Linked DNA regions of Homo sapiens. The protein of the gene in region 1 interacts with the protein of each later gene in a pairwise test. Each region holds a gene or a part of one and is shown in the gene's direction. Other genes may lie near its edges.

Region 1 (16,183 bases):
CAACAAGAGCGAAACTCCGTCTCGCTCTATAAAATATATATATATTATATATTAATTTTATATATAAAATATATATTATATATATTAATTTTATATATTATATATAAATTATATATTTAAAATATATAATATATAAATTATATATGATACATATTATATATATTTTATATATTATATATCTACATATATAAATACATATATATTTATATATTATATATTATATTATATATTATATAATATATATTTTATATATTATATTATATATTATATAATATATATTTTATATATTATATTATATATTATATAATATATATTTTATATATTATATTATATATTATATAATATATATTTTATATATTATATTATATATTATATAATATATATTTTATATATTATATTATATATTATATAATATATATTTTATATATTATATTATATATTATATAATATATATTTTATATATTATATTATATATTATATAATATATATTTTATATATATGTAAAGACCTTGTCTTTAGGACAAACTATTTTTTTGTAAAGATTTGCTTGTTGCCCAGGCTGCTCTCAAACTCCTGGCCTTAAGCCTCCTTCCTCGGCCTCCCAAAGTGCTGGGATTACAGGCCTGAGCCACCATCCCTGGCCCCATACTGCATTATAAATACTATAATACCTATAATTTATTTTATACTATGTAGTTCTAAGGTATAATTATATAACATACAAAACAATATATAACATGGAACATAAACATATAGTATATATTACTTACATGCAGTATGTTAAAACTTAATTAGCAGATGTGTTGTGTGTGTCTGTGTGTGTACACAACTGGAATCATACCATCCGCATCTTGCATTGTGCCCTTTTTCATTTAATATATATTGGAGATCTTTACAAGTCAGAACATATAGATCTAACTCATTTTTTTCATGGCTATATGGTATTCCATTGAATGTATTTTTCATAATTTCACAGGTTCTTTATTGAGGGACACGTAGGTCGTTAGTCTTTTACCATATTCTTTTTTTTTGAGACGAAGTCTCGCTCTTGTCCCCCAGGCTGGAATGCGACGGCGTGGTCTCAGCTCACTGCAACCTCCGCATCCCGGGTTCAAGCGATTCTCTTGCCTCGGCTCCCCTAGTAGCTGGGATTACAGGCGCCTGCCACCAGGCCCAGCTAATTTTTGTATTTTTAGTAGAGACGGGGTTTTACCACGTTGGCCAGGCTGGTCTAGAACTCCTGACCTCAGGTGATCCACCTGCCTCGGCCTCCCAAAGTGCCGGGATTACAGGCATGAGCCACCGCGTCCGGCAGTCTTTTACCATTTGCAAACAATATTGCAATCAACATTTAAAAATGTGGATCTTTACATATTTTTGCCAGGATATCTGTAGGGTACATTTCTAGAAGTAGAATTGCTAGGTCAAGGAGTAGATAAAATACATTTAAACATTTTGATAGCTGTTACCAAGTTGCTCTTTGATGAAATTGTACCAATTCTCACTCCTACGAACAATGAGAGTGTTCCATTCTCTAAATCGTTTCAGATATTTGACAAGATAAAAATTAGCACCTGGTTTAATTTGCTTTTTTTTTTTTTTTTTTTTTTTTTTTTTTTGAGACGAAGTCTCGCTTTGTCAGCCAGGCTGGAGTGCAGTATCGCGATCTCAGTTCACGGCAACCTCCGCCTGCCAGGTTCAAGCGATTCTCCTGCTTCAGCCTCCTTAGAAGCTGGGATGTAATCCCAGCCTGTAGGTGCCCGCCACCACACCGAGCTAATTTTTGTATTTTTAGTAGACACAGGGTTTTGCCATGTTGGCCAGGCTGGTATCGAACTTCTGGCCTCAGCTGATCCAGGCACCTCGGCCTCCCAAACTGCTGGGATTACAGATGTGAGCCACTGTGTCTGGCCCAAACTATTTTAATGTAATGTAATGTAATTTTCTTGAGACGTAGTCTCGCTGGGTTACCCAGGCTGGAGTGCAGTGGTACGATTTCGGCTCACTGCAACCTCCTCCTCTCGGGTTAAAGTGATTCTCCTGCCTCAGCCTCCCGTGTAGCTGGGATTATATAGGCGTGTGCCACCACGCCTGGCTAATGTTTTTGTGTTTTTAGTAGAAACAGGGTTTCACCATGTTGGCCACGCTGGCCAAATTGTTCTTCTTTTTTTTTTTTTTTTTTTTTTTTGAGACGGAGTCTCGCTCTGTCGCCCAGGCTGGAGTGCAATGGTGCGATCTCGGCTCACTGCAAGCTCCGCCTCCCAGGTTCACGCCATTCTCCTGCCTCAGCCTCCGGAGTAGCTGGGACTACAGGCGTCCGCCACCACGCCCGGCTAATTTTTTGTATTTTTAGTAGAGACGGGATTTCACCGCGTTAGTCAGGATGGTCTCGATATCCTGACCTCGTGATCCGCCCGCCTCGGCCTCCCAAAGTGCTGGGATTACAGGCGTGAGTCACCGCGCTCGGCCTTTTTTTTTTTTTTTTTTTTTTTTTTTAATTGAGACGGAGTCTCGCTCTGTCGCCCAGGCTGGAGTGCAGTGGTGCAATCTCTGCTCACTGCAACCCCGCCTCCCGGGTTCCAGCGATTCTCCTGCCTCAGCCTCCCGGGTAGCTGGGATTACAGGCGCCCGCCACCACGCCCGGCTAATTTTTGTATTTTTAGTAGAGACGGAGTTTCGCTATGTTGGCCAGGCTGGTCTCGAACTCCTGGCCTGAGGTGATCCACCCGCCTCGACCTCCCAAAATGCTGGGATTACAGGCGTGAGCCACCTCCCCCAGCTCCTTGCTTTCTATTTCTACTGGGCAGTGCTGCTCAGTAACCATGCCAGTCCCGTCCCCGCCTCTATGCGCTGGGATTCCGCAGCCAGAATACTTACATCCCTGGGGCCCCAAGGGGCTCACTAAACCACGTGCCTTGTCCAGGTCGCGTTTTTTTGTTTTTGTTTGTTTGTTTTTTTCCTCCTGGTCTTGTCCTTTGTAAAGCCTTAGAACAGTCGTTAAACAACCCAGCAAATATGCAATTCGCGTTTTCAGTAAATTTATCCAAACCGCATTCCATTCCTTACCCTCCTGCTTCTGCGCAGACAAGCGCCCTTGATGACGTTTGTCCCACGTCGCTCTCCGTTCGCTCCCAGGCTTCTCTGCGCGTGCGCCTCCTCACACGCCTGCAGGTATGGCGTTCTGGTGTCAGCGTGACAGTTATGCCCGAGAGGTACGGCGTCACGGCGAGGCACTTGAGACTGCCGGGCCGGCAAGGCGGTTTGGGGAAGAGGGCGCCACGTGTAGGGAGTGCCAACATGGCATTCTGTCCTGGTGTGGAGAGGGCTAGGGCTAGGGCTGGGGTCGGGGCTTATTCTCTCATTCCTCTCTGTTCAGTTCACCACCACCGTGGTCTCCTGCTGTCCCGCGGAGCTGCAGACTGAAGGGAGCAACGGCAAGAAAGAAGTGCTGAGCGGTTTCCAAGTGGTGCTGGAAGACACAGTGCTTTTCCCTGAGGGCGGGGGACAGGTACCAAAACGATCTCTTCCCAGGAAGCCCCCAGTTTCTTTGTGCTCAGGCCGAAATGCTCTCCTGCCCCTTTTTTCTCAGCCATAATGAATTCAGATGAGCTTTAGTTTAATTCATTTTGTTATTCATTTAATGAGTATTTATCAGCAATTGCTTATCTAGACATAACATATGCTAGATATTATTCCAGGCTGTAAGGATAACCGGTGAACAACACAGTGCCTTTATATACGTGGAATGTTTATTGAAGACAACTGTGTGTGCTAGGTATAATAAGTAATAAACAAAAACCAAGTAAAGGGAAAGAGAGTGATGGGATGCTTGTCTAGATGAAGGGTAAGTTATTTCAGTAGAGACCTAAACGAAGTGAGGGGGTGAGTCTTTGCAATTATCTAGTGGTGCTGGGGGGCAGAGGGAGTATTCAGGCAGGTAGAATAGCAGGTGCAAAGGCCCCAAGGAAGGAATTAGCTTCGGGTTTTAGGGACTGAAAAAGATGTTCCTGAAGGAGTTCAGGTGAGATAGACGGGTTACAGTAGTACAGCAGAGAGCATATTTATCAGTGCTGTGATGAGGACTAGGTACAACATGAGCGCAAGTGAGGTACATTGTGAAGATGGAAGAGGAGGATAATAACACCAAAGGTGGGCATTATGAGAAAGGCTTTTCTTTCTTTTCTTTTCTTTCTTTCTTTCTTTTTTTTTTTGAGACAGAATCTCTCGCTGTCATCAGGCTGAAGTGCAGTGGCATGATCTCAGCTCTGCAACCTCCGCCTCCTGGGTTCAAGTGATTCTCCTGTCTCAGCCTCCCAAGTAGCCTGACCAACATGATGAAACCTTGTCTCTACTAAAAATATAAAAATTAACCAGGCATACTGGCAGGCCCCTGTAGTCCCAGCTACTCGGGAGGCTGAGGCATGAGAATCACTTGAACCGGGAGGCTGAAGTTGCAGTGAGCCAAGATTGTGCCACTGCACTTCAGCGTGGGGGACAGAACAAGACTCCGTCTCAAAAGAAAAAAAAAAGGTGTATTAAGGTGTGTGGGCAGCGAACCATGCAGGTTATTTTCTTTCTTTTTTATTTTTAAGAGACAGGATCTTGCTATGTCACCCAGGCTGGAGTGCAGTGGCCTGATCTAGCTCACTGCAGCCTCGAACTCCCAGGCTCAAGCAATCCTCCTGTTTTAGCCTCTCCAGTAGTGGGGACTACAGGCGCACAACCAACATGCTTGGCTGCTTTTTTGTAGAGATGAGGTCTCACTTTATTGCCCAGGCTGATCTTGAGCTCCTGGCCTCAAACAGTCCTCCCACCTTGGCCTCCCAAAGGCTGGGCCTACAGGTGTGAGCCACTGCCCTGGCCTCCACTCAGGTTCTTAAGCAAATAAGTGACATGAGAGAACATGTTCAGTAGACTTGGTATTGAGAGAGTTCCAATTTCATATCAGTCATTATTATGGTGATTTTCCCAGTATGAAGATTTCCCTGATCTGCTGAAGGAAAACCTGTGACCTCAAGTATCCATAGAAGGTCTCATTTTAGACAGCATTTCTTTCAGGAAGTCTTTTTTTGATTCCCCAAGACTGTTAGGTCTCTTTCCTTTGAGGTTCTCTAGCGTCATATACTTTTTCATATTATGGCATGTTATAGGTCATATTGCAATTGTCTGTTTTCCAGCCTCTGTTCTCTAGACTCTTAAGTTCCATGAGGTACCATATCTTGTTTACATTGTATTCTTGGGCTGGCACAGTCTTTTGTAAGCAGTTGGCACTTGAAATGTTTTAAAATGAATGAACTTTTTTTTTTTTTTTTTTTGAGATGGTGTCTTGCTCTGTTGCCAGGCTGGAGCGCAGCGGCGTGATCTCGGCTTACTGCAATCTCCGTCTGCCAGGTTCAAGCAATTCCCCTGCCTCAGTCTCCCGAGTAGCTAGGACTACAGGTGTGCACCACCATGCCCAGTTAATTTTTTGTATTTTAGTAGAGACGGGGTTTCACCATGTTGGCCAGGATGGTCTTGATCTCCTGACCTTGTGATCCGCCCACCTCGGCCTTCCAAAGTACTGGGATTACAGGTGTGAGCCACTGTACCTGGCCCTTTTTTTTTTTTAAATGAGACAGTGTCTCACTCTGTCACCCAGGCTGGAGTGTAGTGGAGCAATCATAGCACACTGCAGTCTCAACCTTTTGGGCTCAAGTGATTCTCCCACCTCAGCCTCCCAAGTAGCAGGGAGTATCATGGCCAGCTAATTTTTTATTTTTCATAGAGGTGGGGTCTCACTGTGTTGTCCAGTCTGATCTCAAGCGATCCTCCTGCCTTGGTCTCCCAAAGTGGTGGGATTACAGGAATAAGCTACCATGCCCAGCCTAAATGAACATTTTTGAATCTAATTCTAATACCACTGCAAGAGGATGGAGTGGAGGGAGGGAGGAAAAATCAGATCATTTTAGAGACTACAAAAGAATCTAGACTAAGGCAAGGAGAGTTGAGGATTAAGATTCTTCGGGTTTTACTAAAATTTTTGTTGCTGTAGTTACAATCTCTTTAATTCTGTTATTCTGAAGATCACAACACATAGGTGTTTAGAATGAAAAGGACTGAGAATCCTCTCATGGAACAAAGTGGACTCATTTCACTTGGCATTGCTTTCTCCCTCTCCCTTAGGGAGCCCAGATTCTGGGTCTCTCACCCTAGAGGGTCTTTGTACCTAGAAGTTAGGGTGAGCCCTGCCTTGCCATTGATTACGTTTACTTATTTCCACCAGCCTGATGACCGTGGTACAATCAATGACATCTCTGTGCTGAGAGTGACTCGCCGTGGGGAACAGGCTGATCATTTCACCCAGACACCCCTGGATCCAGGAAGCCAGGTTCTGGTCCGGGTAGATTGGGAGCGGAGGTTTGACCACATGCAGCAGCATTCAGGTAAAGGCTGGGATGGGGGACATAACACCGGAGCAGTTGCCATGTATGGGGATGCTGTGATGACTGAGACGTAGTTTGGGTTCTCTAGGAGTTAACCTTTTGGAAAAGACAGACTATTCAGAATCAGCTGTAATTCAGGAAGGATATCCTAAATGTTATAACAGCAACATGAACAACTGAAGTAAAAAAAAGTATTAGAATAACTGCTGGATTTAGGTATTATCAACTTCCCACTCGATATCTCCATCTGGATGTCTCACAGCCTTTTCAAACTCAAAATGTCCAAAATGAAACAAAAAGCCTTCCCCTCCCTCCTGGTCTTTCATTAGCATCCTGTGTGTTCATCGCAGGGCATCAGCATGCACCTAGTCACTCAAGTTCTGGAAGTCATTCCAGATACCTCTTCAGGCATAGACAGCCAGCCAATCACTGAGTCCTGTTGGTTTCTTTTCTTTTTTTTTTTTTTTTTTGACACAGAGTTTCGCTCTGTCACCCAGGCTGGAGTGCAATGGTGCGATCTCGGCTCACTGCAACCTCTGCCTCTCGGGTTCAAGCGATTCTCCTGCCTCAGCCTCCCGAGTAGCTGGGATTATAGGCCCCCACCACCATGCCCAGCTAATTTTGTATTTTTAATAGAGACGGTGTTTCACCATATTGGTCAGGCTGGTCTTGAACTCCTGACCTCAGATGATCCGCCTGCCTTGACCCCGCAAAGTACAGGCATGAGCCACACCCCCCCAGCATGTTGGTTTGTTTTCTAAATGTCTGTCCACTTCTTTCCACAGTCACTGTCATCCTAGTCCCAGCTCCTAGCTGTCTTCCCCCTGGACCTCTCTAACAGTTTCCTAATTGATTGCCCCACATTCAGTCTGGCTCCTCTGTAGCCCATTCTCCACATAGCACCAGAACAGTCTTTTTTTTTTTGAGTTGGAGTCTCGCTCTGTCGCCCAGGCTGGAGTGCAATGGCATGATCTCGGCTCACTGCAACCTCACCTCCCGGGCTCAAGTGATCCTCTTGCCTTGGCCTCCCGAGTAGCTGGGATAACAGGTGCGTGCCACCATGCCTGGCTAATTTTTGTATTTTTAGTAGAGACGGTGTTTCACCATGTTGGCCAGGCTGGTCTCGAACTCCAGACCTCGTGATCCGCCCGCCTCGGCTTCTCAATGTGCTGAGATTACAGGCGGGAGCCACTGCGCCCAGCTGAACAATCTTAAAAATGAAAATATGGCAGCCAGGTGCGGTGGCTCACGCCTGTAATCCCAGCACTTTGGGAGACCGAGGTGGGCAGATCATGAAGTTAAGAGATCGAGACCATCCTGGCCAACATGATGAAACCCTGTCTCTACTAAAAATACAAAAATTAGCCAGGCATGGTGATGCGCGCCTGTAGTCCTAGCTGCTCAGGAGGCTGACACAGGAGAATCGCTTTAACCTGGGAGGTGGAGGTTGCAGTGAGCCGAGATCGCGCCACTGCACTCCAGCCTGGCGACAGAGCGAGACTCCATCTCAAAAAAAAAAAAAGAAAAGAGAAATGGCTGGGCACTGTGGCTCACTGCTGTAGTCCTAGCACTCTGGGAGGCTGACACGGGAAGATCGCTTGAGGCTAGGAATTCCATACCAGCCTGAGCAAGATAGTGAAACCCTGTCTCAGAAAATAAATGTAGGCTGCTCGCGATGGCTCACGCCTGTAATCCCAGCATTTTGGGAGGCCAAGTCGGACAGATCATGAGGTCAGGCATTTGAGGCCAGGAGTTCGAGACCAGCCTGGCCAACATTGTGAAACCCTGTCTCTACTAAAAACACAAAAATTAGCTGGGCGTGGTGGTGCATGCCTGTAGTCCCAGCCACTCAGGAGGCTGAGGCAGAATTGCTTGAACCCAGGAGCCAGAGGTGGCAGTGAGCTGAGATGGCACCACTGCACGCCAGCCTGGGCAACAGAGCAAGACTCCGTCTCAAAAAAGTAAATATAACTTTTTTTTTTTTTTTTTTTTTTTGAGACAAAGTCTCGCTCTGTCACCCAGGCTGGAGTGCAGTGGTGCAGTCTTGGCTCACTGCAACCTCTGCCTACTGGGTTCGGGTGATTCTCCTGCCTCAGCCTCCTGAGTAGCTGGGATTACGGGCACGCACCACCACATCCGGCTAATTTTTGTATTTTTAGTAGAGATGGGGGTTCACCATGTTGGCCAGGCTGGTCTTGAACTCCTGACCTTGTGATCTGCTCGCCTCGGCCTCCCAAAGTGCTGGGATTACAGGCTTGAGCCACCGCACCTGGCATAAATAAATATAAGTTAAAGTGGAAATGTAAACAAGAAAAATAAAAACAGACTGAGCGTGGTGGCTCATGCCTGTAATCCCAGGCACTTTGGGAAGCTGAGGTGGGCAGATCACCTGAGGTCAGGAGTTTGAGACCAACCTGGTCAACATGGTGAAACCCTGACTCTACTAAAAGTACAAAAATTAGGCATGGTGGCGTGCACCTGTAATCCCAGCTACTTGGGAGGCTGAGGCAGGAGAATCGCTTGAACCCGAGAGGCAGAGGTTGCAGTGAGCTGAGATTGCACCACTGCACTCCAGCCTGGGTGACAGAGCGATACTCCATCTCAAAATAAATAAATAAATAAATACAAAAATAAATAAAAATAAATATGTAAAATGAAATAAATTTTATTTAATTTTATTTGTTATTTTTATTTTTTTTTGAGACAGAGTCTCACTTTGTTGCCCAGGCTGGAGTGCCGTGGTGCAATCTTGGCTCACTGCAACTTCCACCCCTGGGATTCAAGCAACTCAGCCTCCTGAGTAGCTGGGATTACAGGTGCATGCCACCACACCCGGCTAATTTTTGTATTTTTAGTAGAGACGAGGTTTCACCACGTTGTTTCAGGCTGGTCTCAAACTCTTGACCTCATGATCCACTTGCCTTGGCCTCTCAAAGTGCTGGGATTACAGGAGTGAGCCACCGCGCCTGACTGAAATAAATTTTAAAAAATGAAAATATTATGTCACTCCTCTGCTTAAAGCTCTTCAGAGGCTTCCTGTAGGTCTTCGTGTAAAGCCAAACTTTTTACCATGGCATACAAGCTGTATCTGGGTGGCTCTTGTCTACTGCTGTAGCCTCATCTGGTGTCCCTTGACCTCTTGCTGGCTGCATCCTGGCCTTGCTTGTCATCTCTGGATTCCTTTGACATGCGCTACTTCTTTCTTCCTTAAGGCCTTTGGCTGTCTTGTTCCCTCTTCCTTGATAGTTCCTCCTCTTTCTCCTTTTCTTCCTCCTCCTCTTCCTCTTCTTTCTCCTCATCATCACTCTTGTCAATCAGGGATGCTGCTGTATCTCTTATGTCAAGCCCTGTGCCTTGCATTTGGTAGGTACTCAATAAATACTTGTTGAATGGATGAATGCTGCATATTGGAACTTAAGTTCACTGGGCACAGTGGCTCACACCTGTAATCCCAGCATTTTGGGAGGCCAAGGCAGGTGGATCACTTGAGGTCAAGAGTTCAAGACCAGCTTGGCCAACGTGGTGAAACCCCATCTCTACTAAAAGTAGAAAAATTAGCCGGGCACGGTGATGCACGTCTATAATCCCAGCAACTCAGGAGGCTGAGGCACGAGAATTGCTTGATCCTGGGAGGCGGAGGCTGCAGTGAGCCCCTGCACTCCAGCCTGGGCAACAGAATGAGACTGTCTCAAAAAAAAAAAAAAAAAAAAAAAAAGGAAGTTAAGTTCAAGTCCAGCCCCTTATAAGTTACATTGCCATGGCAAGTTATTTGATCTCTCTAGGCTTCAGTTTCCTCATCTGTGAAATGGTATCATAAGGCCTCTTGCAGAATTCTCATTGTGATTTTCAATAAAGTATCTAAAGTGTATTACCCAGTGCTTAGCAGGTCTTCAACAAGGAGAATTTCTGTGCTTTTATCATTGTAGCTCATATTTTATCATTGTGGGAGTATGTAGGCTTCTCACTTTTCTCCTGTCTCTGGCTCTCTTTGCTTAGGGCAGCATCTCATCACGGCAGTTGCTGACCATCTATTTAAGCTGAAGACAACATCATGGTGAGTGGGAGGCATAAGACTAACTGTAGGCAGGCCCATCCCAGCACTGGGAGGGAGGCGGAGGTGGGAGAATTGCTTGAGCCGGGGAGATTAAGGCTGTGGTGAGCTGTGATTGCCACCAAATGGCAGCATGGGTGACAGCGAGCTTGTCTTAAAAAAAAAAAAAAAAAAGGCCAGGCGCAGTGGCTCACGCTTGTAATCCCAGCACTTTGGGAGGCCGAGGCGGGCGGATCACGAGGTCAGGAGATCGAGACCATCCTGGCTAACACGGTGAAACCCCGTCTCTACTAAAAATACAAAAAATTAGCCGGGCGTGGTGGCGGGCGCCTGTAGTCCCAGCTACTCGGGAGGCTGAGGCAGGTGAATGGCGTGAACCCGGGAGGCGGAGCTTGCAGTGAGCCGAGATCGCGCCACTGCACTCCAGCCTGGGCGACAGAGCGAGACTCCGTCTCAAAAAAAAAAAAAAAAAAAAAAAAAGTGGTGAGAGGGTATGCTTGTTCCAGTTTTTAGAGGAAAAGCTTTCAGCTTTTTCTTGTTCAGTAAGATATGTTATCTGTGGCCACTGTACTTCTGACAGGGAGTTAGGGAGATTTCGGAGTGCGATTGAGCTGGACACCCCCTCTATGACTGCAGAGCAAGTAGCTGCCATTGAGCAGAGCGTCAATGAAAAAATCAGAGATCGGCTGCCTGTGAATGTCCGAGAACTGAGCCTGGATGATCCTGAGGTGGAGCAGGTAAGGGTAGAGCCAGAGGGATGGTTTCTGCGGAATGATTCCTCATCAGATTCAGACAGTCCCTCCCCTCTCCTTGAGTCCAGGTGAGTGGCCGGGGTTTGCCTGATGATCATGCTGGGCCCATTCGGGTTGTTAACATCGAGGGCGTTGATTCCAACATGTGCTGTGGGACCCATGTGAGCAATCTCAGTGACCTTCAGGTAAGTGAGGAACGGCTGTGGAGTGGCTGAGAAGAGGGATTGGGGGAGAGGGGATCACATGGGGCTGGGAGTGGGAGAGGGGGATAATCGAGGAGTCCTAAGTGAAATCTCCCCTTCACTGTTTCAGAGCTGAGGAACAGATAGGTTTCTCCTGCCTTCAGGTTCTAGGATCCGCTGTGGTTTATGCATGTGCACACGTGTGTGTGTGTGTTACCCCCTTGCCTCATGTAGGTCATTAAGATTCTGGGCACTGAGAAGGGGAAAAAGAACAGAACCAACCTGATATTTCTGTCTGGGAACCGGGTGCTGAAGTGGATGGAGAGAAGTCATGGAACTGAAAAAGCACTGACTGCTCTGCTTAAGTATGCCTGTTTCAGTACCTTCGATTACCTCCCATTTCTGAGATTTTCGACATAATCTCTTACCTCTGGGAGATAAGATGCAATCGTAAATGATAAAGTGCGGCCAGGCGTGGTGGCCCACATCTGTAATCCCAGCACTTTGGGAGGCCGAGGTGGGCGGATCACGAGGTCAGGAGATCAAGACCTTCCTGGCTAACACCGTGAAACCCCGTCTCTACTAAAAATACAAAAAGAACTTAGCCAGGCATGGTGGTGGGCGCCTGTAGTCCCAGCTACTCGAGAGGCTGAGGCAGGAGAATGGCGTGAACCCGGGAGGTGGAGCTTGCAGTGAGCCAAGATCGTTCCACTGCACTCCAGCCTGGGCGATAGAGCAAGACTCTGTCTCAAAAAAAAAAAAAAAAAAAAGATCAAGTGCTTTGGATAGTAAATCAGAACCACGAAAAGTGGTTAATTCCTTTGTATGTTTTCTCCCAGTTGCCTAAGAGACCTCCTCAGAATATCTCCTGGTCCCTGACTGCAGGGAGGCACCATAGCAAGAAGGAAATTATTGATTTATGTCCCCAACATCAGAAACGACTGGGAAGCTGCGCAGGTCTCCTCTGACCTTTCTCTTTCAGGTGTGGAGCAGAGGATCATGTGGAAGCAGTGAAAAAGCTCCAGAACTCCACCAAGATCCTGCAGAAGGTGATTTATTCCATGGAGGGTAGAGAGGGCATGGGCCCTGCCTAGGATAGGCTCTGCAGACTTGGTCTTCTGCCTAAACAGATGTGTAGTTTGTCAAAGTGGGAGTGAGGGGAGAATGAGGTGGAGGGAAGCTGATACTCTCTATTGTTATCCTTTCCATTTATCTACTGAGTTACCATATCCATTTCAGAATAACCTGAATCTGCTCAGAGACCTGGCTGTGCACATTGCCCATAGCCTCAGGAACAGTCCAGACTGGGGAGGTGTGGTCATATTACACAGGTGAGAAATTAGGAGCTGGACACAAGGAAGGGGAACTGTGTTGGGCTTAGGGCTCAGTGTCTTCTCTATATGCAATGTACAGTGGGAGGTGGATTGCTCACTGGTATTCTCAAGGTTGAGTAGATCCTAAGAAATATGTTACTGGCCGGGCGCGGTGGCTCACGCCTGTAATCCCAGCACTTTGGGAGGCTGAGGCGGGTGGATCACAAGGTCAGGAGTTCGAAACCAGCCTGGCCAGCATGGTGAAACCCCTTCTCTACTAAAAGTACAAAAATTAGCTAGGCATGGTAGTACGCGCCTGTAGTCCCAGCTACTCAGGAGGCTGAGGCAGGAGAATCACTTGAACCCGGGAGGCAGAGGTTGTGGTGAGTGGAGATCACGCCACAGCACTCCGGCCTGGACCAACAGAGTGAGACCCCATCTCAAAAATATAAAAAAAAAAAGAAATATGTTACATACCAGGCCTCCTGGGTTTGATATTAACATATTTACTGTAACTCTGTATCTTTTGTTTTTTGTGTTTTTTTTGAGATGGAGTCTTAGTGTGTCTGGAGTGCAGTGGCATGATCTCGGCTCAGTGTAACCTGTGCCTCCTGGGTCCAAGCGGTTCTCGTGCTTCAGCCTCCCGAGTAGCTGGGGGATCACAGGCATGTGCCACCACACCAGGCTAACTTTTGTATTTTTGGTAGAGCTGGGGTTTCCCCATGTTGGCCAGGCTGGTTTTGAACTCCTGACCTCAAGCAATCTGCCCACCTTGGCCTCCCAAAGTGCTGAGATTACAGGTGTGAGCCACTGTGTCCAGCCTGTATCTTTCTTTAGGACTGTCCCCTACCTCCTTTACTCTCTAACAGATTTCTGCTTATCCTGGTGAATCCTATTTAAGGGAGATGGAAACAAACCTGGAGGTTGATTACAAACTGCAGAGGCTGAGAAGGGCAGCTTGCTGGCTTTCAGCCAGTACTCTCTCTTGGCTAAGGGATATGGGACTTTATGTGTACATAGGCAGCAAGGCCAGCCTCAGAAGGAGGGGCCAGGCTTCCTGCAGTTTCACAGCCACCACTCCAACCTGGGTCTCATGTCTGTGTCCTTTGTTGTAGGAAGGAGGGTGATTCAGAGTTCATGAATATCATTGCCAATGAGATTGGGTCAGAGGTAAGAGGAGCATGAGATTCTCTACCCCGGCCTGGATAGAGACCTAGGGAGACATAAGTGAGGGGCGCTAGTTTAGCCAAAGTCCCTCCACATGAACACATGAGGAGGAGGAAATAGCCATTCATTCAATACTGTTTTCTTAGTACTAGCTATATGCCAAGCTCTGTTTTAGGTGTTGAGCTAGATCTATGTTATTGCTCTCTCTGGGGCTGTGATGTTTATTAGCTTCTGAGCTCCTTTCATCAGAGCTCTAGCTCCTCAAAGCCATTCAGGTTTATGTGTGCTGGGGATCCAATATTAGAAATATATCAGTGGGCTGGTCGCGGTGGCTCACGCATGTAATCCCAGCACTTTGGGAGGCCAAGGTGGGTGGATCACTTAAGATCAGGAGACCAGCCTAGCCAACATGGTGAAACCCCATCTCTACTAAAAATAGAAAAATCAGGCCAGGCATGGTGGCTCACGCCTGTAATTCCAGCACTTTGGGAGGCTGAGGCGGGTGGATTGCCTCAGCTCAGGAGTTCGAGACCACCCTGGGCAACATGGTAAAACCCTATCTCTACTAAAATACAAAAAATTAGCTAGGCGTGGTGGCATGCGCCTGTAATCCCAGCTACTCGGGAGGCTGAGGCATGAGAATCTCTTGAGCCTGGTAGGCAGAGGTTGCAGTGAGCTGAGATTGTGCCACAGCACTCTAGCATGGGCTACAGAGTGAGATTCTGTCTCAAAACAGAAGACAAAAATTTGCTGGGTGTGGTGGCAGGTGCCTGTAGACCCAGCTACTTGGGAGGTTGAGGCAGGAGAATTGCTTGAACCCTGGAGGCTGAGGTTGCAGTGAGCCGAGATTGCGCCACTGCACTCCAGCCTGGGCAACACAGACTGTCTCCAAAAAAAAAAAAAAAAAGTAAATACAGGAGTGGGCAAGCCCCTTTGAAAGCCATCCCCGTCCATTTTCCTCTTCCTCTGGCTTTACTTACTCTTCCCACTCCTGATGGTCTCTAGCCTAGAGATTTCCAGGTCTTTTGTTTGTTTGTTTGTTTGTTTGTTTTTTTCAGAGACAGAGTCTTGCTCTGTCACCCAGGCTGGAGTACAGTGGCGTGATTATGGCTCACTGCAGTCTTGAACTCCTGGGCTCAAGCAGTCCTCCCACGTCAGCCTCCTGAGTAGTTGGGACTGCAAGCATGAGCCACCATGCCCCACTATCTCTTTTGTATTTACTCCAGAACCCTTCTTTGGAATGCCTACTGTGGGTAAAGCGTTGTGTATCTCTCTTTTCATAATTCTTCTGTATAGACAGAACTGATTCTCAAGAAGCTCATATTCTAGTCTGGGAGACAAATATGTATGTCGACATTTATAATTCAGAATGATAGAGTGATGAATGCTAGAGGTGGAGGAGCACATTACCTGAAGGATAGGGAGGTTTCAGGGGAGGGGCCCTTGAAGACTGCTTAGAGGTCATCAGACAGACAAGGGGCAGAGGCGGCCAGGCAGAGGGAAACCTGGTGGTTTAGGCAGTGGCAGGGAAAGGATGTGTGGTGGGGAAAAGTTTGCAAGAGTGAAACCATGAAAGGCATTTTCTGCTTAGCCAGGATCAGCAGTCTTCTGCTGCCTTCTTAATGTTTCACCTAAGTTCCCATAGTTGCTCTCAAAAAGTTTCTTGGCCCTCGTGGGCCAGTGTGGAGGGGCTGTATCATCATTCATCAGGAGCGTCACTTGGTGGTTTAGGGGGAAATAATCTATTCTTAAGATTGAAGAGAGTGCAGGATTTGGGGGGTTGACTCTACATCCTTCAGTATCAGAGCTTATCTCCTTGTCTTACCTCCTAGGAGACCCTCCTGTTCTTAACTGTGGGCGATGAGAAAGGTGGTGGACTCTTCTTACTGGCAGGGCCACCTGCGTCTGTGGAGACCCTGGGGCCCAGGTAATTCTTTGTGGACTCTCTTGCACATGTAGTAGAGCCTGTATCCTACAAATACATTCCTTTACTGAGTCAAAGGACCATCACATCTGCGATCTCATTTAATTCACATCATGGGCATGTGAGGTGGGCTGAGCAGAGATAATTATTACTACTGTCATTTCCAGTTTGACAGTTGAAGGTCTTTTGGCTCCACATCTCACATGTATGTTTTTGTTTTTGTTTTTATGAAATGTGTTTGTTTTTGTTTTTTGAGATGGAGTCTTAGTCTGTTGCCCAGCCTGGAGAGCCCAGGCTACTCAGCTCACTGCAGCCACCACCTCCCAGGTTTAAGCAATTTTCCTGCCTCAGCCACTCAAGTAGCTGGGATTA
Region 2 (16,619 bases), on another chromosome or scaffold:
ACAGTGCGAGACTCCATCTCTAAATAAATACATAAATAAATTTAAATAACATTGGTAAAATGTTATATGGCATATATAATCTTATGTGGCATTTTTTAAATTAAGAGGTCTTCATGGAAAATTCAAAATATTTTCCATCTTTACATCAAAACCTTTATAAATTAAGTATCTAATATTTTAATATAATTTAATAATATGACATGATATCTGGTATTTCCTTTGAAAACCTCCAGCAGAGAAAACAACATAAAAGTTGGGGAAGTATATTAAACAAGAGTGACAGAATGCTGTAACTGGTGATGTTGAGTGAGGGGTACTTAGGGGTTATTTATACTTTTCCCTATGCTTGTATATATCATATATCTGAAGTTTCCCAAATAAAAAAGTTTAAAAATTATTGATGATAAATTTTAAAATATGTGGGTATTTTTAATTAAAAAAATTATTAACTGGTTGTCTCTGACTCGAGGCCTGGCACGGGAGATTTACTATTTACTTATATTCTTGTAAATTGTTTGCATGTTTTTATCAGATACATTATTTACTCAAGAAAAAGTATATGTATATATGTATGTATACACACACATACCATACACACACACACACACACACACACACCAGTATTTTGGTACTGTACTTACTGCCTGAGGATACGGGTTATGCATTTAACTTCTCAGTTGCTTGCCCTTAGGTAAGTTGGGTAAGTTACTTCTGAGCATTCTTATGGAAGAATAACATTTAAATGAGGTAATGCATTTGAAAATATCCAGCACAGTGTCTGGCATAATACTGGCGTTCACTTAGTGCTGGTTTAAATTATATTAAATATGTGGAGAAACTAGATTTAATATAGGAGGCAGGCCTACCCCTAATATTTGAGTGGCCATGAGCAAGAGGACAAACAGGGGCATCCAGCCCATGGCCTGTTCTCATCTTTCTCCATCCTACCAGAGGCCCTTGCATATGTGTGTGGACACTCCAACAGGCTTGATCAAGTTCCACCATCCCCAAAAGCTGTCCTTTCACCACTCCTGAGGCCTAAGTGTGTGCACACTTACCCTGCAGTCTACAACTGCATGGGCCTGGGAGTGGGCTTCTGGCTATTTGTCAAAGAATTTTGGGCTTGTAGGTGGCTGGAACCTAGTCTGAAGGAGGTGAGGGTGGGGTGGTGAGGGGAGAGATGTACTCTTGGAATTCCTTGGCCCATGGGAAGAGGTGTGGCTGGAGAAGGGCCAGGATGGGTTCTTTCAAAGCAAAGGGTCCAGGCAAGTGCCACAGGCATCTGAATCGAAAAGCAGTACTGATTCAAGACAAAGTATTATATTGAACCACTCAATGGAGTGGGAGTCAGAAGACATGGATTCTTGCCCTAATTCTGCCAGTAATGTCATACGTGACCTTAAATCAGTGTCTTTACCTTGCTGCACCTCAATTTTCTCATATATTCATTTAATAAATATTTATTGAGCTCCAACTATGAGCGAGACATCCAACTAGACACTGAGGATATACAGAAAACTCAACAGATTGCCCTCATTGACTTAGCATTCTGACAGAGAGCAAGATAACTGGGGCAAACATATTCCAAACGAAGGGCCCCTTCTAAACCAAAACTTTCCATTCAAAATCAATCTTTAAAGTTGTCATGTTTAATAAGTACTAGTAATGAAAGAATCCTAAAAGGAAAAAAGTGTTAAATTATAATGCAATATTATCAAGAGCCTTTTATGATCAATTCTCTAACACAGCAGCATGAGCACTGTACTAATTTTAATCACAAGCATTATTGCCAAATGCAGCACGAAACTCAATCTCTAAAATGTGCCATTTTCTTACTGTTACTCATTTTACTTATGAATATTTTATATGGAAGATAAATTTATGTAAAAATAATATAATCACAACACATTTATCCACATTTTAAAAATAAAATACATTAACAGAATGTAGCAGGTAATTTTTAAAACATGTATTTCAAACAACATTAATATTGAGCTCTGTTATGTAATAAACATAAACAAGGGAGTTCAGAGAAACAGATGAATAAAGTGTAAATGTCTAAGAACCGCTTATATTTATATCAGACCAACTAAGATTGGGTGCAGCTTCCTGTCTTACTACATCAACTACAGATTGTTTGGGGTCATGACAGACAATCGATCAGACAACTAGGAGTCAATTGAGAAGAGCTAAGGAGTCTGTCTTGGATAAAACAGTACAGAATTTTTTTCTAAAAGGATAGTTGTTAATAATGGAACTGATATCTTGTGTACTTCTAGTTTGACCTAAAAGCAGTTACACAAGGAGAGTTCCAAAGCTCACATTATTCTAGCTGTTTCCTTCTTACCTTCTCAAAGTTGAAGAGTTGCCCATTTTCACAAAATGTCAATGATAAGGGACTATTTATACTTGTTAGATCTCACAACTAGAGTCTTCTCGGGTAGAGTGAACTTTTAGATAAAAATAAAAACACCCAGCATGCAGTGTGCCCTGGAGTCTATGCAACCTAGCCCTCTCTTCTCTGTCCGTCTTGGTTCAAAATAAATAAAATAGAACAAAGGAAGCTGAGTTTTATTCATAGTATAGCGTTTTTATTGAGCTGTTTCCACTAGATGGCACTAAAGATTCTGTGTTTCAGGAATCAGGCCCTTTTAAAAAAGAAAATCAGAAGACAAAAATGATCTGTCTGAAATAAACAATAAATTTCTCCAGTCATCTGTCCTAATGATCAGTTTCTTAGAAATGAAACATGAATCTTGGCCATTTATTCACTATCAAACATTTATTAAACCATATTAAGTTTCAGACACTGTGCCCAGTATTAAGGATGCAGAAACAGGACAAGGTCCCTTGTGCTTAAGAGTTCCCAGTGTGGAAGAGGAGGGGAACAGTGAGAACAGAGGGCTGAATCAGACAAGCGAGTAGAAAATTGAAATGCAGAATGTTAAAGACTTGATAGAGATCATCACAGTACCACGGGTAACACACAGAGGGATGCCTAATGAAGACTTGGTGAATGGAGGATTCCTAAAGAAGTTGATGTCTAAACTGAGCTTTGAAGAATGGGTTGGAATTCATTAGGCAAAGAAGAGTGGGCAGAGTGTCCGAAGCAGAATAAGTAGTAGCTTGTATAATCATAAAAGAAGGCTGAAGCCCAGTGTGCATGCTTGGGTTTGGATGGGGCAGTGCAAGAAATGAGGTTGACTGGGCTGGCAGAGGCAGGGTCATGGGAAACCATATATACATATGAGATTATATATATCACTCTAAGACATATGGAGTTTTATCCTGAAGGCACCTCCTACTCCTCTCCCCCTAGTTCATTCTGATTTTGTCACACTGGCCTCCTCACTGTTGCTCAAACATGAGTAGGCACATTCCTCTCTCAGCAAGCACTAACTCTTCCCTCATCTGAACTACCTTTTCCCCATGGGTCCCTCCTTCACCTTTAAGTGTTTGCTCAAATATCACCTTCTCAATAATACTTATCCTGACCACTCCAGTTATATTGCAACACCCTCATCCTGCACTGGATGCTCCTCACTCTGCTTAATTTTTCTCCATAGCATTCTCACATTCTAACATACTGTATAGTTTCTGCAGTTATTATATTTATTCTTTTTTTTTTTTTTTTTGAGACAGAATCTCGCTTTGTCACCCAAGCTGGAGTACAGTGGTATGATCTCCGCTCACTGCAGCCTCCGTCTCCCGGGCTCAAGTGATTCTCCTGCCTCAGCATCCCGAGTAGCTGGGATTACAAACATGCACTACCATGCCCAGCTAATTTTTGTATTTTTAGTAGAGACGGAGTTTCGCCATGTTGGCCAGTGATCTCAAGTGATTCGCCCACCTCAGTCTCCCAAAGTTCTGGGATTACAGGCATGAGCCACCGTGCCCAGCATATTTATTGTTTATTGGCTGCTTTCCCCTACTAGAAGGTAAGTTCCACGAGAGCAGGAATTTTTGCTTGTTTTAACAATACATCTCTGGTGCCTGGCACATAGTCAAAAGTCCTTGCTGTCAAGGAACTTATTATTTTAGTAGGGAGTAAGTTGTGAAGACATTTGGGAAAATCATATTCCAGGTACTCAAAGGATATTAAATGAGTAAACATAGGCATGGAAGAGCTACCAAAGAGCATGATCAAACTGGAATTGCAAAAAGATCCCTAACAGGATTATAGAGAATGAATTGAAAACAGGGAGTGAATTCAGAGATGATGGAGGTAATAATATAGTAAAAAGAGCCCCCATGTAACAAGTGGGCTCATGGTTTATAAATCACCTCCAAATCCCACATCAATCAAGGGAGGATGAAAAGGTTAAAAAAGAAGAAGAAGAAGAAGAAAGAAGAAAAGAAGAAGAAGAAGAAGAAGAAGAAGAAGAAGAAGAAGAAGAGGAGGAGGAGGAGGAGGAGGAAGACGAGGAAGAGGAAGAAGAAGCCACCAGCGTAGTGGCTCATGCCTGTAATCCCAGCACTTTGGGAGGCCAAGGCAGGTGGATCACCAGAGGTTGGGAGTTCAAGACCACCCTGACCAACATAGTGAAGCAGTGTCCTGTAGAGAAAAAGAGAAGTGGTCAGAGCGGCAGGAGGTAGAAGAAAAATCAAGAATAGCATATGGTAACTGAGGAAGAAGAAAGTTTCAAGAAGAAAGTTGTCAGTGTCAGACCAGGCGCAGTGGCTAATGCCTATAATCCGAGCACTTTGGAAGGCTAAGGCTGGAGGATCACTTGAGCCCAGGAGTTCAAGACTAGCCTGGGCAACATGGTGAGACCTCATTGCTACAAAAATAAAAATATTAGCTGGGCATAGTGGCACACACATATAATCCCAGCTACTTGGGAAGCTAAGGTGGGAGGATCGCTTGAGTCCAGGAGATTGAGGCTGCAGTGAGCTGTGATCACACCACTGCACTGCAGCCTGGGCAATAGAGTGAGACCCTGTCTCAAACAAGAAAAACAAACTGAAACAAAAAACTGTCAGTGTTAAAAGCTATAGTGAATTCAGTTAGTTAAAAACTGAAAAGTATCCAATGGATTTAGCAAATATGAAATTATTGGTAACTTTGGCAAAGGCAAGTTCAGAGGAATGGTGAGAGCAAATGCCAGATTGCGCTGTGTTTAGGAGTAAAATGCAAGGGAAGAAGAGATGCAAATGTAGACTATTCTTGTCAAGCAGCTTGGCTATAAAGAAGTAGAGAGGGATTGGGAGCTAGAGAGGGGCATAGGGTAGAAGGAGAGACTGAAGCATGGACATGAGCGGAAAGAAAGATCCACCAGAAAGAAGATAAAGACAGAAGAGAGAGGAGGCAGGCAGGGCTGAACTTCAGAGCACAGGTCCCAGGAGAAAGGAGTCTCCTTCCTTTGAAGGAAAGAAGGAAGGATGGTGACAGAGACAGATGGAATGGTGAAAGATAAGTCTGACAGAACTCTCTGGTCCCTTTCCATATATCCACTCAATGTCTGATGGTAATGATCAAGCATAGTGCCCAAACCAGCCTTGCCTGATTTCCTGATGGGTCATTCTCCCTTCCTGGCTTTCTTGCCTTCAATATCTTCCCTGTCTTGGGCAAACAGGTGTGGGCTGAAAGTCTTGTAGACACTTTCATGAACGCTGGTCACTTTCATCAGTCCTGTTCCTCTCATCCCATGACTATTGCTTCCCCAGACAGATGAAGCAATGTGTGAGCATGGAAGAAGACACCGAACTAATTCTGAGAAAGGAGCATCCTTAACAAATCCTCTCTCGTCCTGTGATGTCACCCCATATCACTTATGGTCTGCACTATCCATAAAACTCTTGGTTGAAGGTGGTCCTGTTTGTCCTCCCATTACTTGAGATCACCATTCTCTCCTTCATCAATAACAGGTCTTTATTAAATGACTACTGTCTAGGTTGCCAAGATTTTCCATCTTAACAGAGAGAGTATACATGTATGTATGTGATATATATAGTGTGTAAATATATACACATATGTAAATATATACACATGCATATATATACACACATAATAAATAAAAACAATACCACAAGGTAGCACAAACTGCAAAGTGAATAATATAGGCAAAACAGCATTAGGCTTGAATCTGGAGCCCTGAAATAAGAGAAAGCTTCAAGGGGGTAGTGTGAAGTAGGGCTTTCATAGAAGGAAGGGTAGGTTTAAATAATAAAGGAAGGAGAATGTTGCCGACAACTTGGCAAACACCAAGAAACGTGCTTGGCAATGTTTAGGGAATAACTAAACAAGCAGTTTTATGAATCTATTGAAGAATGCAGATATTATCCTACAAAAATGGGGAGCTACTGAAAGTTTTAGAATGAAGACTGACTTGTATCATGTTTTTATATGTTTTTACAATTAATTTGGAAGAACTGTGTAGATCAAAAAAAATAAAGGGCAGGGATAATTCAGACACTATTGTAATACTTAAGGTGAGGGTGATAAAGAGCTATAGCATCTTAAAAAGTGTATGCAGTGAGGTGTTGGCAGTGGGGATGGAAAGAAATCGGTGTCTGCCTGGATATGGAACAAGAGAAAGGAGGCCAGCAGCACTATAAGGTTTCATGCAGGAGGGAAAGGAGAATGATGATACTCTGGAGAGAATCAAATAGGAAAATTCAGAGAGTGCAGTTCAGTGAGCAAAGAAGTTCAGTGAAGTTTAAGCTATGTGGGACTTGGTGATAGGAACATATTTGAGTGCAGATTTAGAAATCTATGTCAAAAGCTCAGGGGAGACATCAGTACTGGAAGCGTTGGTCTGGGAATCATCCACGTGAGGAAATGTAGACGCAAAGGTAGGAGATAAAGTGGAGGAAGGGGAACTAGTGAGGATGGAGGGTGTGAGAAGCAGCCCAAGAGACAGAAGGTTAGGAGAGTAGAGTATTTCAGAAGTCAAGGAGGAGGCAAGTTTTAAGGATGAGGAAGTACAAAAAATGGTAAATACTAAAGAGATTGCCTATTGAGAAAAGGCCAGCAATATGGTCACTCATGATCTACAAGAAAGTCTCAATAGGAAAGAGGGGAGGAATAAATCGGTGGTGATGGTTATAAAAAGATGATGAAAGCAGACAGTGAGACCACCCTTTTGAGAAATATAGGGGCGAGAACCACCACTATTAATACGTTGAAGGGGAGCTAGATCAAAAGACGATTTGCTTCCCCTTTCAGGACTTCATCAGAACTCTTGGCAGAAAAACTGACTGAAACATAGGAATAAGGTTTTGAGGAAGCAGGAGAGGTTGGGATAAAAAACAAAAATCTTGAGGAACTAATCTTGGCACTAAAGAATGGCAGTCAGGAGAGGTAAGAGAGGAGGTGTGAGGAATCATGGATTTTTTAAGTAGAAAGGCGAGGCAGTTCTTCAGACAACCTTGTTTTTCTCATCAATGGAAGGGAATTAGCTGCAGCATGTGTGAGGGATTTGATGCTTAATAAACTGAGAAAGGAAAGGTAGAGGTGGCCAGGCGCGGTGGCTCACGCCTGTAATCCCAGCGCTTTGGGAGGCCGAGGCGGGTGGATCACCTGAGGTCAGGAGTTCGAGAGGAGCCTGCCCAACATGGTGAAATCCAGTCTCTACTAAAAATACAAAAAATTAGCCAGGTGTGGTGGTGCATGCCTGTAATTCCAGCTACCTGGGAGGCTGAGGCAGGAGAATCGCTTGAACCCTGGAGGTGGAGGTTGCAGTGTGCCGAGATCCTGCCATTGCATTCCGGCCTAGGCAACAAGAGCAAAACTCAATCTCAAAAAAAGAAAAAAAAAAAAAGGGAAAGGTAGAGGTAGCCCGAATATAATCTTAGATATGGCATCATAAGGTTGTGTTCAAGTTCCAGATATGTTAACTTGGGCTGGCCATCCAAGACCTGGCAAGACCTCTTTGAGGCCATTTCCTTACAATATTGTTAAAGGTTAAATGAGATACTGCTAAATGAGATATTGCACGTGTAAATTATGAAGTACTTCTGAAACAAGAGAAGCTTGAAACTACTACCACAAGAAATGTGATACAGTATGAACAAGAGATGAAGTAAAGCACAGCCAAGCAGCAGGGAGGGTAAAGGTGAAGTTCAAAGCAAGAATATATAGCAAACCCAAGTCCACACAGTTTTTGTGACTTCCTCCAGCCTACTGGAGAGGCGAATGCCGATTTTGAGAGTAGATGCAAGAAGGACAAGAGGCTGAAAAAAATCTAGGTAAGGACTATTTAAAAATCTTTGGAGATATGCTTAACATTTGGAAATTACTTGCACATTTTATATAAAGGTGGCATTTGACTCATTGGCGTGTTATATTTTGGAAATGGCCAAACATTTCATTTTTATATTTTATAATGGTTTTTTTTTTTTTTTTCATATTTTGGGGTTAACTTTTTTTCAGATTCCATACTTTTAAAAGCTTAGGCTCCAGACACTATGCCTATAGCATGAAACAGATAATGAAGGAATCAAGTGAAACAGTCGCCCACTGGGTACAAATTAAGTAGGGAAGGTCATGAACAAAGAAAGCAGTGAGGGCCCAGTAGACAAGCTGACGCAACTGGAGATAACAACAGGTGGAGGGGAAAGGAGCAGCTGTTTCCATTTTTGGAATTTTGGAGAATCAGGAGACGCCTGGTAAGGCCAGAGAAGGTGGCCGTGTAATTATAAAGTTAAAGGGGTCGGACGTGTTCATCTTCCCAATTAGTTTTAAGCCCACAAAGGGCTTGTCCCTCATTGCCACCGTCCATTGTCTCACTGTGACCAGGCAGGAGCCCTCCGTGATTGACTGATAAAAACAGCGGGTCCAACTCGCTCAGCTCGTTTCTGTTACACAGGACTGTGGAATCCCGGGTGACATTCAACTCCTTAGGTCATCTGCACTCCCCCCGGACCGGAAAACAAAGCCTTCCCGAGCCCGACAAGGAGGGTGGCGCTCCCTGGCCCGGCCGAAGTAAGCCCTCCATTCGACACCTCGGCTCCACGGTCTCCCGAACCGGTCCCCGTAACGCGAGCCTGAGATGCCCTCACCCCCGAAAAATACCCAAAGTCGGGGAGCCGCGGGAGTGCTTGTACCCAGCACGCTAGGCCTGAGGGACCTGTGAGCTACAGTAAGCGCCTGAGGACAGAGGGGAGCCTCGCAGCCTCAAACCCGCGTGGAGGAGAAACGTCTGGCGCCCCCGAGCGGCCGAGACCTCGGGAGCCCGAAAAACGTCTCCCACTCCCAGCGCAGAGCCAACTGACAGTGCCATCCACCAATGGGAGAACCCAGTCTGCGTTCGTGGGACGAGTCCGAGGGCAGAAAGAAGGCCGTCCCGGCGCCAAATCAGCGTGGCTTTTTAAGAGGTCCTGAGGCCTCTCTGGTCACCACAGAGAGAGGGACAGTCCCTGTGAAACGGTGACGCTGACTACACTATGCCGCTCGCTCCGAGCCTTGGCCTTTTCCTCCCGCCGCACTCTAAGCCCTTCGGCCGCCCCGCCCACGGCCTTGTCAGGTCCCGCCCCCCGCGTGAGTGGACTGGCGAAGATGTGGAATTTCCAAAACTTATTGGATGCTTAGTGGCGTCACTCTGGAGGGCGGCGGGGCCCGGAGCGGCGAGGGCCGCCGCTCTCGGACGGTGATTGGACTCGCCGGAGTAGACCGGGCTGGGATTGGTGTGAGGAGGGGCCAGAGCCCGCGGGCGTCCCGGGCCGAGGCGCGGGAGAGGCGGTGGACACCGAGAAGCCCGCCGGCGGCTTGCAATTCCCTCACCCGGCGCGCGCCTTTCGCAGAGGGAAGGAGCAAGAGGGCCCCTACCTCATCGTGCGCGGGTGGGGTCGGCGCTTGTCGCGTGTGGCGCGCAGTGGGGCGGGCGGCGGGAGGGGGGTGGCAGTGGAGGGAGCGAGAGGTGCAGGGGTGACTTTGTTGGCAGCAGGACTAGCTGGAGAGCTAGACCTGGAAGCGCATCCGGGGAGGACTTGCGGGGCAGAGGAGGGCGTGGGCGTGTCTGGTGTGGGATGCAGTGGAAAGGAGGGGGCCCTCCTGAGTAGATCTGTGGGTGATTCCTTCGAGGACGCCTCGTCTTCCCGTCTGCCCTTTTATTTGTCAGCGAGGGAGTCCCCATGGTCTCTGTTCAAGTTCTGGAGACTTTCTCTTTGGGTGGGCTTAATCACCTGCTACTAAATCGTAGAACTGCCCAGGGCCCTTTCTAATATTGGTCACAAACGTGAGGAGTATGTCAGAAAACAGAAAACCGCTGCTGGGCTTTGTAAGCAAACTCACTAGTGGGACTGCACTTGGGAACTCAGGCAAGACTCACTGCCCCCTGTGCTTGGGGCTTTTCAAAGCCCCCAGGCTCTTGCCTTGTTTGCATACAGTTTGCACCACGTGTCTGGAGCAGCTGGAGCCCTTCTCAGTAGTGGACATCCGAGGGGGAGACTCTGACACAAGCTCTGAGGGGTCAATATTCCAGGAACTCAAGCCACGAAGTCTGCAGTCGCAGATCGGCATCCTTTGTCCTGTATGTGATGCTCAGGTGGACCTGCCCATGGGTGGAGTGAAGGCTTTAACCATAGACCACCTGGCCGTGAATGATGTGATGCTGGAGAGCCTACGTGGGGAAGGCCAGGGCCTGGTGTGTGACCTGTGCAACGACAGGGAAGTAGAGAAGAGGTGTCAGACCTGCAAAGCCAACCTCTGCCACTTCTGCTGCCAGGCTCATAGGTAAAGATGGGACACTCCATCAGGTGTAGCTTAAGAGCAGATTACAAAGAGGTGTCAAGACAAATCCCTCGGTGAGCAGATGAAAAGGAAAGCCTTCTCAAATACCGTGGAAGGTCAAAGAGCAATATAACAATGCAATAGCAAATACTCCAGTACAACAGTTAACCCGGTTAGCCTAATATAGTACCTAATATATAGCCTAATATAGCAATAGCAATAAACCCTTTCAATTTACAAAGTGCAGCTACAGTTTCCTTCAGTCATTCGTGTAGTGAATAATTGTACTGGGTGCTGGAGAAACAGGAGAATGAATATAACAGCATAGATCCTGTTCTTGATCTCCTTCGATCTTGCAACTCTTACAGAAAAGCAGGCCCTGTTTTCGCCCCCATTTATTAATTGGGGAAACAAGCTCAGCAATATTATGTGATTTGCCAAGGTCCTACAGTTGGTAAGTGTGTAACAGAACTGAGTATTAAATCCAGATCATTTTGACTACATTCCAGTAACCCATGCTGTGCTCCTAGAATAGGTGATGATGATTGGCCGGACCTCAGCTTTTGCTTTGTGTACCTTAGAGTTACTCTGGAGCTTGGTGAGGTGGGCTGGTAGGTGTTAATTGGGGTGCAGACTATGTGTTTTATGGCATTTGGTGAATAGTTTGTCAGATGGATCACTTTTGTCCCTTCGTACTCTTACCTTACCCCATCCTAGGACACCAGAATATAAAATGACCACAGTTTTAGGATTAGCCTAAAATAGGTTTCGGGTTCTACTTCCATTTGTTTTCTGGCTACACTAACAGAACAAGTTTGTAGACTTCACTCTATTTTTAACTTGTAATTATGTGATAGTCCCTGCGACTGTCTTGCTGCCAGCCAAACCAGCTAACCCTATTTTCTCTGCAGCCACTCTTCTGGTGCCAGAATAGGCATATAAGCTTCAAATTGATACAATGCTAATGGAGGAACTCTGAACAGTCACCATGTTTTCCTAAGGATTTCCCTACATCTCTAGAGGGCTACTATAGGAAAGGAATTAGAAAGAGAGCTTTGATTCTACTAACCATTGGTTTCACACTTTCTTTTCTCTTTTTTTTTTTTTCTGAGATGGAGTCTGGCTCTAGTCGCCCAGGCTGGAGTGCAATAACACAATCTCCACTCACTGCAACCTCCACCTCCTAGGTTCAAGCGATTCTCCTGCCTCAGCCTCCCCAGTAGCTGGGATTACAGGCACATGCCACCACGCCTGGCTAATTTTTTGTATTTTTAGTAGAGACAGGGTTTCACCATGTTGGCCAGGCTGGTCTCAAACTCCTGACCTCAGTTGATCCGCCCACCTCAGCCTCCCAAAATGCTGGGGTTACAGGCGTGAGCCACCGCGCCCGGCCGGTTTCACGCTTTCTAATGATGTTGACGATGTCTCTTGAAAAAAATTCTAGCCTGCTGATTTGGGTGATACAGGTCAACAGAAATGCTTCACCAAAATCTTAGATGCAAGCTAGATGAGACTTGGTGTCTGCTTTTTAATTGCTTGGACTTTATTGCTGTGTTATCTGGCATGGTTTCTGTTTCTTGATGCTGGTTTTCTGCCATGCCCTCACTGCTAGCTTACCTTAGGAAGCCGACTGTGACTCTTGTCTAAACTCTTTGGGAAAGTTCTAGCATGCAGTCATAGTCTTGCAACCTTCTGCATAGGCATGTAGCCAGCCAGAGCCCTAGTCTGTTCACACGTTATTCTATACAACAGCTCTTTCAGGTAGGTATTGTCCCCACTGTACAGATGAGAAACTGGAATCAGAGAGGTTCATGCAATTAGAGATTAGAGCAAGGAATTGAAATCAGGTTTGTTTAACTTCAGATCCTGTGCTCCTAAAATCTCTCTGCCCAACTATTCCCAACAGAATTATCCCCTTATTTCCTGTTACTGATTCTGTTTGCCCCTAGGCGGCAGAAGAAAACGACTTACCACACCATGGTGGACCTAAAAGACTTGAAAGGCTACAGCCGGATTGGGAAGCCCATCCTGTGTCCTGTTCACCCTGCAGAGGAACTGAGGCTGTTCTGTGAGTTCTGTGACCGGCCCGTGTGCCAGGATTGTGTGGTGGGGGAGCATCGGGAACACCCCTGTGACTTCACCAGCAATGTCATCCACAAGCATGGGGACTCTGTGTGGGAGCTCCTCAAAGGTACTCAGCCCCACGTGGAGGCCCTGGAGGAAGCCCTGGCTCAGATCCACATAATAAACAGTGCCCTCCAGAAGCGAGTGGAGGCAGTGGCAGCTGATGTCCGGACATTCTCGGAGGGCTACATTAAGGCCATTGAGGAGCATCGGGACAAGCTGCTGAAGCAGCTGGAAGACATACGGGCCCAGAAGGAAAATTCCCTGCAGCTGCAGAAGGCCCAGCTGGAACAGTTACTGGCAGACATGCGGACTGGAGTGGAGTTCACCGAGCACTTGCTGACCAGCGGCTCAGACTTGGAGATCCTCATCACCAAGAGGGTGGTGGTAGAACGGCTCAGGAAGCTGAACAAAGTTCAATATAGCACCCGTCCTGGAGTAAATGATAAGATACGCTTCTGTCCTCAGGAGAAAGCAGGCCAGTGCCGTGGCTATGAAATTTATGGTACGATTAATACCAAAGAGGTTGATCCAGCCAAATGTGTCCTACAAGGAGAAGGTAGGAAGGCATTTCCCATTGACATTGAGAGGGCAGTGGACAGGGAGGTGGTGTGTGAAGATTGGTGGCTTGTTCTGCTAGGAAGCATGCCCTACTGACCAGGTTACCAAAGGTGGGGAGATAAACTGATCTGAAAGACAGTGACCCCCACCTTTGCCCTTTCTGGTTTGTTCTGGCTAGGGTACAGTTAATACAGGAGTGAGGCTTGACCCTTTTCCAGTTCAGAGAAGTAATAATGGCTGAGAAACACACAGATCATGTTTTGTTTCTATCAGATGGCAGAACAGAGACAGTGCCCGTTGGAGGTAACAGCAGTGACTAGGGCCAGGTGAAATTCTGCCTGCTCAGAGAGGAGCATGGCAGGCCCTGGATTCCTAGATCAAGTTCTGAAGGGAGTTTCAGAGGAATGAGGAAGATGAGATTACGGTTTCCTTTCCTTTAGGCCCTTTTTGGTTCACATCAACTTTACTGGCATTTAAAAGGATATGGTAGGTGTTTCATTTAATTGGGGGAAAAAATGGTTTTTTTTAACGAGTGTTCCCTTTCTAATGGAAGCATATTATTAAAACATATGTTTCACAGGTCAGTAGGTCAGTCCTGATAGGAAGATTGCATCTTAATGACACAGGCATTCTTAACTGTTTGGAAGCCATAGATCTCTTTGAGAATGTTCTCTCCTACAGAAACACCCAGTAACTTGTGCATACAATTCCAGATTTTTAGACTCTTCATAAGCCTTTCCATAGACCTCATAGTAGTTCATGAACCTCAGGTTAAGAAACCCTGTTTCATCTGAATGCTGGAGTAGGGGCTGTAGCTACTGGATATCCCCCCAGTACCTTGGCATGAGCTACCAAGTTGCAGAGGATCTCAAAACATGGAGGGTCGTGAGGCTGGTCAGCTGTACTCCCTGCCTAGCCCAGCAGGATCTGGAGCTTAGGGAGGGTGGTTTTGGGGTTACTATCCTCTCTCACAGGGTCTAGAGGTTTTCTTTAAATACCTCGGTCAGTCGTGAGTATTTTTAAAGCATAGGACCTTCAGTCCTAGGACTGAAGGTAAGGTCCAGGATCCTGTGTGATCCAAAGCAGCTGCTAGCTGAGAGAACCAGGCCAACCAGGAAGGACTCCCAAGAGGCGTACTCTGGGAGGCAGAAGGGGAAGAGAAAACAAAGGGACCCAGGGTGGTTACAGTAAAGTACAACCCTTTGTTCTGAAGAGAAAAAGCAAGATGGAGATGTAGTCACTGCAGTTTACATTCGAGGTGAGGACCGAGTGTTTATCTTTTTCAGACCTCCACAGAGCCCGGGAGAAACAGACGGCCTCTTTCACCCTGCTTTGTAAGGATGCCGCAGGAGAAATCATGGGCAGGGGAGGAGACAACGTTCAAGTTGCCGTTGTCCCTAAAGATAAGAAAGACAGGTTTGTATGACACAATTAGGTGTCATGGATAACAGGCAGTGAGAAAACTGGAAACATGAGGTCCTTTAAGATATTGGAGCTGGGCACAGTGGCTCATGCCTGTAATCCCAGCACTTTGGGAAGTGGAGGCAGGAGGATCGCTTAAGCCCAAGAGTTCAAGACCAGCCTGGGCAACATAGGGACACCCTGTCTCTACAAAATTAAAAAAAAAAAAATTAGCCGGGAGTGGAGGCATATGCCTATAATCCCAGCTATTCAGGAGGCTGAGATGGGAGGATCCCTTGAGCCCAGGAGGTCGAGGTTGCAGTGAGCTGTGATTGTGCCAGTGCACTCCAGCCTGGGCAACAGAGCAAGACCCCAGGTCCAAAAAAAAAAAAAAGATATTGGAGTGTAACTCACTAGTTACGTCTTACCTCCCCATAATACTATGAAACGTTACGTGACCAAATGTGTTTTCTTGTGTGGGTTTTGTATTCAATTCTCTCTCAAAGCTATGGTCTGCCCCTCAGATTGTTTTCATCTCAAGCTTTAGAATAAGTTGAAAAATATTCTGTGTTAGACTGAATGGTACCCTTTTCAAAATTCAGTCTCCCTTTGGTACTAAATTATGCCTGGAGCATGTTTATATTTCTCTGGAATTGTAGAATGGAGGAGGGACAACAGAGCAAGAGGGTTCAACAGAAGCCTGTTGAAAAGGACACAATAATATATTCAAGGAATTTGTCTGAATATCAGACTAAATTGGAATTTATGCTGTTTACCTTCTGTTGTAAAATTAACTTCTGAAGCAAATGGAAGAAGCATCCTGTTTGGGTATATTTAACATTAATACTGAATGGGATGGTGTAGAGTTTACATTCTGAAATAGTAGCAACTGAAGCCAGCTTGTGGAAGTGAGTGGTGTTTTGACTCTTATCTCCATTCAGCCCAGTCAGAACAATGGTCCAGGATAACAAGGATGGGACATACTACATTTCCTACACCCCCAAGGAACCTGGCGTCTATACTGTGTGGGTCTGCATCAAAGAACAGCATGTGCAGGTAAGACTGGTGCACGTGCTTCCCTGAGCTCCCTGGATTCTACTGTCTTAGGATCTGGAGACATTTCACATAGGATCAGCTATACAGAGAGATTGAATAGAATCCCCATGTCTTCTTCTTCACTTTAGAAACAGCCCAGATTTTGCTACTCTTATTCTTCCTGGAGGATGCTGTTGACCATAAGAACCCTGTATCCCTGTGTCACCTCCAGGCAGTTATGCTTATAGCTTATCATTCTCCCAGTTGGTTTCTTAGGATTCTTAATATGGAGAAGATGTCTTGATCACAGGGGGTGATCTGCCAGCAGACAACCATGCATATTCAAAAAATATAATCTAGCTCAGGATTTTCCAGTTTTGTCCAGACTGTGTCTGGACATGAACACAGTTGAGAGGGTTATGCCCCCTCCTCACAATTGACTAGTCATCTATCTGCCTAACCATCTGCTCATGTAATTTTCTACTCTGTTTTACATATAGGTTTTTCTGTTACTATGGTTCCTATAAACAAACAAATATACCAAACAAGTTACGTTACCATGGTTTCTACAAACAAGTATAACACAAGTAGAGCACTTTCTGCTTTAGAGAGTATGAGTTTTTAAAAATTGGGTGATACTAACAGGTCGAGCAGAATCTCTCTGCTGACATTGGAGTAGTCAGAGGTTTCCCTCCACAGAAATCAACACTGACAGGGACAGTAAAATACCATATAGCATCATGATATATTAGGCTTATGATTTGTGCACTAAGGAACATTCATATTTAATAGCCATTTATTGTTTACCTAATTATGGTATGTCAGG

Evidence for each region.
Region 2: the proteins of AARSD1 (region 1) and TRIM45 interact in binary tests that used the Homo sapiens proteins (3 or more experiments, as listed by UniProt).

The regions. Positions count from the first base shown.
Region 1 is NC_000017.11:42,951,431-42,967,613, reverse strand, and holds the start of AARSD1 (alanyl-tRNA editing protein Aarsd1), read left to right. Parts: upstream 1-3,159; 5' UTR 3,160-3,173; coding exon 3,174-3,212; intron 3,213-3,376; coding exon 3,377-3,508; intron 3,509-6,262; coding exon 6,263-6,422; intron 6,423-10,418; coding exon 10,419-10,476; intron 10,477-11,053; coding exon 11,054-11,210; intron 11,211-11,293; coding exon 11,294-11,410; intron 11,411-11,641; coding exon 11,642-11,772; intron 11,773-12,389; coding exon 12,390-12,456; intron 12,457-12,646; coding exon 12,647-12,738; intron 12,739-13,835; coding exon 13,836-13,890; intron 13,891-15,719; coding exon 15,720-15,814; intron 15,815-16,183. Other genes in the region: PTGES3L-AARSD1 protein, read left to right, coding at 3,377-3,508, 6,263-6,422, 10,419-10,476, 11,054-11,210, 11,294-11,410, 11,642-11,772, 12,390-12,456, 12,647-12,738 and 2 more. UniProt on the Homo sapiens protein: Functions in trans to edit the amino acid moiety from incorrectly charged tRNA(Ala).
Region 2 is NC_000001.11:117,114,770-117,131,388, reverse strand, and holds the start of TRIM45 (E3 ubiquitin-protein ligase TRIM45), read left to right. Parts: upstream 1-9,639; 5' UTR 9,640-10,187; coding exon 10,188-10,675; intron 10,676-12,621; coding exon 12,622-13,355; intron 13,356-14,643; coding exon 14,644-14,773; intron 14,774-15,699; coding exon 15,700-15,814; intron 15,815-16,619. UniProt on the Homo sapiens protein: E3 ubiquitin-protein ligase that plays a role in the regulation of inflammatory response.